2 separate regions of the Homo sapiens genome follow, and region 1 is linked to region 2. Evidence: fine-mapped expression QTL. A gene starts in region 2. The other region holds a variant in brackets. All regions are shown on one strand. Distances are from middle to middle. Region 1 has its middle 11 kb from the start of RYR2. Region 2 holds the start of MTR (5-methyltetrahydrofolate-homocysteine methyltransferase).

What was found. PIP is the estimated chance that this variant, and not a neighbour inherited with it, causes the effect.
Region 1: its variant is fine-mapped to the expression of MTR in atrial appendage (GTEx, PIP above 0.99).

The regions. Positions count from the first base shown.
Region 1 is chr1:237,028,709-237,034,087 of GRCh38, forward strand. No RefSeq gene overlaps it. Among named protein-coding and RNA genes, the nearest start is that of RYR2, 11 kb to the right of the region's middle. The variant A/G (reference allele first, on the strand shown) is at 2,914.
Region 2 is chr1:236,792,609-236,797,987 of GRCh38, forward strand. It overlaps MTR (5-methyltetrahydrofolate-homocysteine methyltransferase), which reads left to right and starts at 2,684. Exons shown (of 33, transcript NM_000254.3): 1 at 2,684-3,129. The coding sequence starts at 3,096. RefSeq lists enhancers at 2,710-2,999, 3,100-3,289.

The DNA.
Region 1 (5,379 bases), 240 kb after region 2:
ACCTGTAGTTCCAGCTACTTGGGAGGCTGAGGTGGGAGGATCGTTTGTGTCTGGAGTTTGAGATTATAGTGAGCTGTGATTGTGCCACTGCACTCTAGCCTAGGTGAAAGAGTGAGACCCAATCTCTCAAAAAAAAAAAAATAAATAAATAAAGTTGAATGTGGGGTAGTTTACTAGGAGAAACATGAATAATGAAAATTAGTAGATAAAATGAGAGAATTAAAGCAAACTCTATAAAGAAAAATTGAAAAAGACTAAATGGTTCAGTAATGAGATATATTAATAAAAGTAAGTATTTTTTCTTATTAGATGGACATAGAAATCTGATTCGAAATGACACTACAGGATAGAGACTTGAAACAAACTCAACTGTCTATTTATTCATCAATCTGTCTATCTATATCGAGTATCACTGTGTGGTTTTATTTTGAAGGTACAAATTGAATTTAAAGAAACAATGGAGAGGAAAAATCCGAGTCATATGTATTGACAAATTTCAGTTATTTACCTTTTTAAGTACTGAGCAGGCATTGGTCTCATTTTGGAGATTTCGTGCAGGAGAATTTTGGATATTAATCAAAATAATAAGTTACATATTTAGAGAAAGAATAATCTAGAAGTCTTTGGACCGATAAGCCTAACCTGTCTATCAGGAAAGAGACTGGAAGAAAATAATTGTGTAACTATTTGATTAATATTTTCATAAGAACGGCAGCAAACAGGATGGCCTTGTAAAGAACAAATCCTGTCAGACTATAACTTCCTCTTCTGACAAAATGAGTAGTCAGCTGGATTGAAGGAGAGGTAATAGACTATCTTCACTTTGCCAAGGATTTTGATTTCTGCTCAGCAAGCAAATACATGAGACAGTTTTGGGTAGTGATGACCAATTTAGAAGGAAATAAGGCAAGGTAATGAGGGGGAAAGTGATGAGTGAAGGCTGATACCTTAGAAATGGTGGTCAGGAGTCTGGATGCGGTGGCTCATGCTTGTAATCCTAGCACTTTGGGAGGCTGAGGTGGGTGGATCACCTAAGGATAGGAGTTTGAGACCAGCATGACCAACATGGTGAAACACCGTCTCTACTAAAAATACAAAAAATTAGCTGGGCATGGTGGAGTGCACCTGTAATCCCAGCTACTTGGAAGGCTGAGTCAGGAGAATTGCTTGAACCCCGGAGGTGGAGGTTGCAGTGAGCCAAGATTGCGCCATTGCACTCCAGCCTGGGTGACAAGAGTGAAACTCTGTCTCAGAAAAAAACAAACAAACAAAAAAAAGAGACGGTGGTCAGGGAGGCCTCTTGGACAGGATGTTTCAGCCAGCATCCAAATAGTGACAAGGCACCAGTCATGTGACCTTCCCAGGGAGAGTGCTCCACAGAGGAGGGCTTAGTGGGTGGCCTTGGCCAGTGCGGTTAAAGTGCATTGAATAAAGGGGGCGGGTATGGGATAATGAGAGGGGTGGGAAAGAACAGAGAAGCAGGTCCCTGTTAGGTGTGTGATTGAGGGCATGGATTCTACTCAAGGACAAAGAGAAGAGGTATAGGGGGACTAGACCGGGCAGAGGCAGGAGAGAGAGGCTTTGGAAGCAGAGCAGAGGGTAGGGGGCCTTGGACTAGGGCACTGGCAATGACGTAATTAGAAGCATCCAGATTTGAGATATATTTAGAAGTAGGACTTGCTGATGGATTAGACGTGGGGAGTGAGGGAAGACAGTTAATCCAAAGATGATTCCTGTGTCTTTGGCTTGATAATGAGGCACCATCCACTGAGACGGGGAAGACTGAAGAACAAGAGGTTTGGGGAAGAGATTTGGGAGATGGGGGCTCTGTCTGGGAAACGTCCTATTTGAGCTGTCTGCTGTGCATTCCCATGGAGGGGCTGCGTAGATAGTTGGATATAATTGTAGAGCTTAGGGGGAGAGGTGGACGCTGGAGATAAACTAGAAGTCACAGCCTAGTGGTGATATTTGGATGATCTTATTTGGATTCTCACAATTTCTCTGGAGGCAGTTATAAAAAACAGTAGATGGGTGGGGGGCAGTGGCTCACCCCTGTAATCCCAGCACTTTGGGAGGCCGGGGTGGGCGGATCGCTTGAGGTCAGGAATTCAAGACCAGCCTGGTCAACATGGCGAAACCCAGTCTCTAGGGAAAATACAAAAATTAGCCAGGCATGGTGGCGGGCACCTGTAATCCCAGCTACTCAGGAGGCTGAGGCAGGAGAATTGCTTGAACCCGGGTTTAAGTTGCAGTGAGCTGAGATGGCGTCACTGTACTCCAGGGTGGGGACAATGGAGCAAGGCTCAGTCTCAAAAAAGAAAAAATTAAATTAAAAATAAAACCCAGTAGATGATGGAGGGTACGCCATTCACCCACGGGTGGCCAGGCGTGTCGGCAGAACTCAAGGCCCAGGAAGAAAAAGAGCAACAAGGAGGAGAGGTCAGATCAACAAAGGGGTTTCCAGGGCCCTCTGTGCCTTGAGCAAAGCCTTACCAGAGGAACAAACAAAAGTATCGCAAGGGACATACTTACACTAAGAAATTATTGGTGGCTTCTCTGAAATTTAAATGTATCTGGGTGCCCTGTCTTTTACCTGGCAACCCTACCTCAACATCAACAAAGGGTTGAAGCCTTCTTCTTTCCCCAGAGTTCCTGCAACTGCAGCCCTGCTTTTTAGCATGCTGTGCTGTCATCGCTTTGCACCTTTTTTCAGTCAGACGTTGTGTGGTTCCTGAAGGCAAACCTTGTGTGTGTTACGCACCTTTGTGCAATCGTTACATTGAAAGACCAGAGTTCAACAGGGATGCTGAAAGCAACTGTATTCTTTTCTCTCTCTGTCCCTTTACAACCATTTAGAGGCTTGTTTTTTTGCCTGGAGGACATTCCTGTCACTTTTAGTCACGAGCAGTCTTG[A/G]CTCCATGCTGGAATGTTCAGTCCAGTTTCACAACCATGACTTTAAGCTTCAAATAGAAAGTGTGTCTCCTTCCAGAGACTGGGAGCATCTGGCTGAGGAGCCTAAGACTGAAGGATGGACTATGAGGTCAGCTTCCCTTTAATTTCCCTCCTTTGAGCCGCTCCTCCTCGCACCCCAACCAGGCTGCTTTCACCTTCCAGAGCTGGAGGTGGCCACTGAGAGTGAGGCTGAGAGCATAGCAGGAATGGTCTTAAGTTACCAGCATTGGGAAGATCTTTGAAGGTGATTCTTTCTCTGAGTGATGTTTTCAGGGGTTGCTCAGGGGACCCACCCCTCTCCTCTTCAGCTCCCTACAAGTGCTGATGCCTCCCGCACCTCACCTCTCCCCAGCCCCGGCTTCTGCATCTTCAGCACGCCTCCATTCAGTCTCTTTGTGCTGAGGTTATCCAGCCCCTGGCAGGAAGCTTTCTTGGGTAGGCACCTTTAAGACGCCTTTAAGACATCCTAGGTTGCATGCCATAACCGGTCTAAGGGAAATACTTCCGTCTGCAGTCTGTGTCTGGCAGCTAGCTCCTGCTGTGGTTGTGTATGGTCCCCCAAAAGAGCCACTTACTATTTGCATTTCTCAGGCATGAGTCAGATAGAAATCTCCAGGGGACCCATATCAAGCTTTCTGTGTAGTCTCCTTGCAGCCTGTCTTCCTGGCTTGAGGCGAGTGGGGGATGCACCTCTTGTGCCCCCTGCGTCTCCTCCCTGAGATGGGGTGGGTGGGGTTAGGGATAAAGACAGCGCTCCAACTTTCTCCAAAGAAATCATCTCTCTCAGCCACTTCTACCTCTACTGTAAGCCTCAAAATCAGTTTCCAGCACCCTCTCTGCAAACCCCACATAGGTGTCCTACTATTCTCTTTAGAATGTGGGAGCCTTTGCTACCTGTTTTATTGTTTTTGACCTTTTGGTGCCTTAGCTGAGGCTGAGAAGAGAAAGTGCCATCCTGTTACATTTGTATTTTTAGCACCTACCTCAGTGCCTGGTACATAATAGGTGCTCAAAAATGTGTGCTTATTTATTTATTTAAGCAAACGAATCATTAATCAACTACAGTAAGAAAAGGTTGACAACTGCCAATCCAGATAACCCACTAGTGTAGCCCAGGAAAAATATTTCCATAGACCCTGAGATTTCACAATTGAGGCAAGATGAGACTTCAGGGAATTCAGAACGTCTGCTAAATTCCTGATTCCCCTAAGTACAATATAAAACTTAAAAATAAATCAGTGATGAGATTTTATGTAATGCCTTGGCCCATCTCAGATCAAGTGCAGATTCCTGGGATGGTGCCACCATTTCTTTGCTTCTTGGGTTCATCTCTGAGCTCTCTCCCTCGACCTTGGTCCTTCTTACTCCCTGTAATCATGAGGGCCACTGGTCTTCCTGGCCTATCCCGCCTCAGATCTGGATGGTGCCTTCTTACCATTCAGCTTACAAGTCACTTGCTCCAAGGAGCATTTCCCTTACGGCCTTCACCAGCCTGTCCCCTCACCACCCCATCTTATGTACCTGTCACAGCACTCACCTGTCTGCACTGTGCACACTATAAGCTCCAGGAAGCAGGCACTGCCTTGTTCACTCTGCACTCCAGGAAGCGAGCACAGAACCAGGCGGAAATAATGCTGAATGAATGAGTGGATTGGCTCAAGAGCATCAGTTGAAAACCCTCTGAGTGGGGCTTTAGGGTAGGTCCACCCTGCACATCTGCCTTCAGCTCTCATTAGTGCACAGCATATATTAAGGAGAGGATGTTGGTTTGGGCAACCTCAACCTTCATGGCTGAACCAAGCACCCATTGGTGGCTCAGTACACCTGCCACCTGAAGTGTAAGCACAGAATTCTGCCAAATATCACAGCATAGAGGCTGAAAGATCATGTCAATCTTGAGGTTTAGAGCTCCTTTTCTCTAATTCACATTCCTTAGTCCTTCACCTTTAGAAATTTCACTGTGATCACGACATCCAATGACAAATTCAAAAAGATAATTCTGTTTGTATCATACACCGTTACTTGGTTTAAATCCAACTAAGAACTGTAGAAGTTGGTGTCAACATTCTCCTGGATTTTATAACCTTCCAAAAGCATCACAGTCTTAGCTCTGTATGTAACCTCCTCTTTTCTCCTGTGCCACCTGTACCCCAGACGAATATAGCTAAATCAAGATGAAGCTAGAATATGGTAGGATCTGTTAGTAAAAAACCCCAAAACACAAAAAACCCCCTAAACCCCACTCCGATATATTATATACAAAAGACATCAAACGTGTGTGTTAGGAAGTTTTTTTAGAGATAGGTTCTTGCTCTGTTGCCCAGGCCAGAGCACAGTGGCATGATCATAGCTCACTGCAGCCTCACACTCCGACAGGAACATTTGATTAAACTGGAACATGAAAACAGAAGAGGCTATTTTAGTAAA
Region 2 (5,379 bases):
TTCTTTTTTTTTTTTTTTTTTTTTTTGAGTCTGAGTATCTCTCTGTTGCCCAGGCTGGAGTGTAGTGGCTCAATCTCCACTCACTGCAACCTTCACCCTGCCAGGTTCAAGCGATTCTCCCACCTCTGCCTCCAGTAGCTGGGATTACAGGCATGTGCCACCACACTCGGCTAATTTTTGTGTTTTTCTTTTTCTTTTCTTTTTTTCTTTCTTTTTTTTTGAGACGGAGTTTCACTCTTGTTGCCCAGGCTGGAGTGCAATGGCACAATCTCGGTTCACTGCAACCTCCCCCTCCCGGGTTCAAGTGATTCTCCTGCCTCGGCCTCTCGAATAGCTGGGATTACAGGCATGCACCACCACACCCGGCTAATTTTGTATTTTTAGTAGAGACGGCGTTTCTCCATGTTGGGCAGGCTGGTCTCGAACACCCGACCTCAGGTGATCCGCCCACCTCAGCCTCCCAAAGTGCTGGGATTACAGATGTGAGCCACCACGCCTGGTTAATTTTTGTATTTTTAGCAGAGATGGGGTTTCACCATATTGCCCAGGCTGGTCTCGAACTCCTGGCCTCAAGCGATCCACCAGTCTCGGCCTCCCAAAGTGCTGGGATTGCGGGTGTGAGCCACTGCACCCGGCCCAAATAGGGTCATATTCTGAAGCACTGGAAGTTAGGGCTTCAACATATCTTTGAGGGGGACACATTGCAACCCATACAGTATTCTTGGAACTGTAAATCGCGTTTTTGTACTAGAAATTCACTGCCCCTTTAGGCACTATGTATTCCTCTAATCTTATTTGTTACTCTTTTACGACTTTAAGAAATACAGAATTTGGTCAGTTTTAGCTGAGAGAGTAAACTTTGATGACTTGCATCAAACAGGGACTGGCACACAACTCCTGGAATTTCCAGTAAGAGAATGTGAATGGGGGACAGTTGCCGACTAGGTGCCTGAAAGATCATTTTTCAAGAAACACGTCAACAAACTTTGAGGGATACATGATAATTAAAAAACTAGCTTCAACCCGGGAGGCGGAGGTTGCAGTGAGCTGAGCCAAGATCGTGCCAGTGCGCTCCAGACTGTGCGACAGAGTGAGACTCCGTCTCAAACAAACAAACAACTAGCCCTTATAATCTTTTTTTTTTTTTTTTAGACAGGTGCATCTTTACACAGTTAAATTTCACTACTTCTTTTTTTGCAGATAAAAACTCAGGAGTTGAGAAATGAATAAACATAATAATAAATATGAGAAAACCATCATGATTTATCAAGCCTGGATAAATAATTTAATAAGTTCAGCATAGAAGACCTTGCTTTTTTTTCTTTCCTCCTTTTCTTCTTCTTTTTTTTTAACTTATTTATTTCAATAGGTTTTTGGGGAGCAGGTGGTGTTTGGTTACATGAATAAGTTCTTTAGTGGTGATTTGAGAGTTTGGTGCACCCATCACCTAGGCAGTGGACACTGCACCCAATGTGTAGTCGTTTATCCCTCACCTACTCTCACCCTAGCCCTTATAATCTTAAGATTTTTGGCTATTTAGGGCCATCTCATTCCTCCCTCCCTTCTTTGTTGCATTCTCTCTCACCTACTCCATTCCCCCCACCTTCCAAGTAAGACCATCTTTGGTAAGATGGTCTTGGTAAGAATGTGATACGCATTATAATAATTTTTCAAATCTTCAAAATTGAGGTATAATTACATACAATAAAATGAGAATGGCATGCAAATTTGTGCCTTTTTTAAAGCTTAGTAAATGTCATAATTTGGTTATAGTTTTTATTTTTCTGGATGCATTTGCTTTTCCTTACATCTACCATGCTCAGCCTTACAGAGATTTTTCTAGATGAATTTGCTTTTTCTCACATCTACCATGCTCGGCCTTACAGAGCTGCCCTTTATTTTAGAATTCCCTAAAGTGCTGTGTTGTACACAGGGAGCTTCTCCTGACTGGAACAACCTTACCTGGTACCACTCTTCCTTCAGGACCCAGATTCTTCTTTGAAACCTTTCCCTGGCCCCTTTGAATACTCTAGCTCTTTTAAAATGTATGTGGTTCTTTTTTCCCTGTTCAATTATTAATCTAACTAGGTTGTGAGTTCCTCCTCCAAGGACGTGAGGGTGCGATGTAGCTTGTCTGATTTTGCATTCCAAGTGTGTGCCCCAATGCCTGACACATAGTAGGTGCTCAATATATGTTTACTGTCAATAAGTTACAATTAACACCCCCATATGGTAATTCAGAGTTTTCATAGCGCGGTCAAACGATCTCATTTAACGCCTACTACAACCCTAAAAAATTCTAATTACTACCATCCTATCATTCTTGTTTGTAGAGTGTGGAGACTGAGAGGTTAACTGTCTTGCCCAGCGCAAGTCAACAGCAAAACGGAACTAAAATTTCAGGCTCGACACCACACAGCGTGTCGAGATCAGCACGAACTTGGCGCTGTGACTTTTCCTTAGAGGGGCCACTTAGGCTTACACTTCCGGATCCTGGGCACACAGAGACGCGAAAAGCTCCCGCGGGAAACTGGGGAGCGGGACTACATCTCCCAGAGAGCCCCGGGGCTAAACAGCAGGTGATTGGTTGATATTGACAGCCAATGCGGCTGCGAGGAGCTCGGGCAGACCAATCACAGGCCGGAAGGGGCGGGACCTCCCACGCCGAGGATAGATTGAGCGCAGAACTAACCGCGCTCTGAAAGGTTCTAAATGTCTGCGGGGCTCAGAGCCGGATGTCACGTCGTCCTCCTCTGCCGGTTTTCTCTTGGGTCCTTTTCCGTGCCGTCCCGCGACTCCGCCTCTGGCCGCGCGTGTCTGGCTGCTAGGCCGACACCAAGGACTGGCCGGGTACCCGGGAAGAAAGCACGTGCTCCAGCAGTTGCCGCGCCCAGCCCCGAGAGAGGCCCTAGGGCGCTGCGGGCTTTCGGGGTCCGCAGTCCCCCCGCGACGCGAGCCAACGGGAGGCGTCAAAAGACCCGGGCCTTGTGTGGCAGGCTCGCCTGGCGCTGGCTGGCGTGGCCCTTGGCCGTCGTCACCTGTGGAGAGCACGTCTTCTCTGCCGCGCCCTCTGCGCAAGGAGGAGACTCGACAACATGTCACCCGCGCTCCAAGACCTGTCGCAACCCGGTAACGCTGCGACCCCGTCTGCGTGGTTGGGTTGTGTTTCTTAACTCGTGCTGTGGCCTCCTAATCCCTGGGGCGATTCCCTTCTGCGGCGGGAGACGCCCGGCGGTGTTTCCCCGCGTGTGGGCGGCACCTTTAGAACTTAGCGCAGGAGCCCGGAGGGCTACGTGTTTTGCTCCACTCTTTGTCCGACCTTCACCTCTTTCTCCCCAGGCAAGCCATCAAAACCTGCAAAAAGCGTCCTCCCCTCGCCCCCGAAACACATTCTTAACGTCACAGTAACTAAACTTTCCAGTTCCACGCAGCATAAACCAGCTGGGCCCTCTGGAAGTTTTTTTTTTTGCATGGTGTGACGCTTATTCGTAAATATGTATTGCGCACCTACTGCGAAAGAAAGTTCAGGCGCGGAGAGACAGACGAGGAAACTCAGAGAACTATTTAAAACTACTACATGGAACTTTTTATTTTCTGCTTCTACGCACGCTGCTGCAAAACTGCAATATGCATAGACTCACTATGTTAAAATAGATGAGCAGACCCCACCTCCAGATACCGAAATGGGAGGTAGTAATTTCAAGCGATTCTGATGTTGGTGGCCCTGGGATCAACAGTGAGAAAAAGCTAGTTTAGCACGAGAACTGAACGTAATGTTAGCTTTATAACGAGCTCTAGATCTCTAAGGTCATGCCTGATTATAATTTGAGGACAAATACACCCGTAAAAACGGGTGAGGAGATGTAGAAACGAGAATTAGTGATAAGTACAAAACAGTAAATATCCTATCACATAGTGGGGATGTTTAGCTTCAGGAAGAGGGGGAATACTAAATTCGTAACGCACAAGGAAATTTATCAGAGGTTAACCGGTGACTCTCTTGATTCTTGGGTTCTGATAACGGGACTGATATAATTGTTCTTGAAACTAGTGGAACTGTGGCTGAGAAACACATCACTGCTGTTATTAAATAAGATATAAACCTCCCTATGAGAGGTTTATATGTTATTTAATATATTAAATAAGATGTAATGAGGTTACATCTTATTTATATTTAATATTTAATTAATAAATGTAAACCTCCCTATAAGAGATTTATATCTTATTGAATAAATGATCATAGGGAGATCATATTTATTTGGAAAACATCTTTTACTCATGATTTCTGGCCTCCCCCTTCCCATTTAATTTAAACAAGTAAAGTTATTTCCCTTTCATCTGAATTTAGGTGTCATTATCAGGAGCAAAATGCCACTGAAGACTTAAAATACTGTGAATAGTGAGTGATTTAAAAAAAAAAAATAAACTGAAAGGAAAATTGTTGAATGTTTGAATCTTGCCTAGTCCCCTCACCCCCAAGGCTGGCTTCTAGAGTTGAGCACTGAGTGGAGTTTAACCAAGTCTAGGGCCTCTGAAGTTCTGAATCAGGCCATTGTGCCTAGAAAAGACCTTAGATGTAGTCCAGCTTCTGTCTATGTGAGCAACTTTTATTGGGATTAGAATCAGGTTTTAACTTCCTAATAACCCTTAGTAATTTACTGGCGTACAATCTTAATGAAATTTTAATGGAGAGCTGGGAATTCCTGATTCTCAAGGTTGGGCCTTAAAACTAAATGTGACTTCAGACCATGGTTGTGTGCCCTGGGGAAGGAGGATGGTGGGCTAGCAAATACATCTTGGGAGAAAATTTTAACTACAGCTTCTAAAAGTTTCTTGGTTTCATCCTTGCTTAGGACTGTGAGTGTTATTTGGAACTCAATTGATGAGTGATTAATGAAGGAATGAATAATCCAGTGAATTGGTATCAATTGATGAGTGATTAATGAAGGAATGAATAATCCAGTGAATTGGTATCAGCCTAATTCTTCTCCGGCTTATTAAAATCAAAGGGGGAAATAATATATATTAAAAATGGAATACTGCACAAGCAAAGAGATGCCCCCAAAGAAGCTGGGCGCGGTGGCTCATATCTGTAATCCCAGCACTTTGGGAGGCCGAGGCGTGCGGGTCACCTGAGGTCAGGAGTTCGAGACCAGCCTGGCCAACATGGTGAAACCCCATCTGTACTAAAAATACAAAAATTAGCTGGGTTTATAGTGAGCGCCTATAACCCCAGCTACTCAGGAGGCTGAGGCAGGAGAATCGCTTGAACCCTGGAGGCTGAGGTTGCAGTGAGCCGAGATCATGCCACTGCACTCCATCCTGGGTGAGAGAGTGAGACTTAGTCTCCAAAAAAAAACAAAACAAAACAAAACAAAA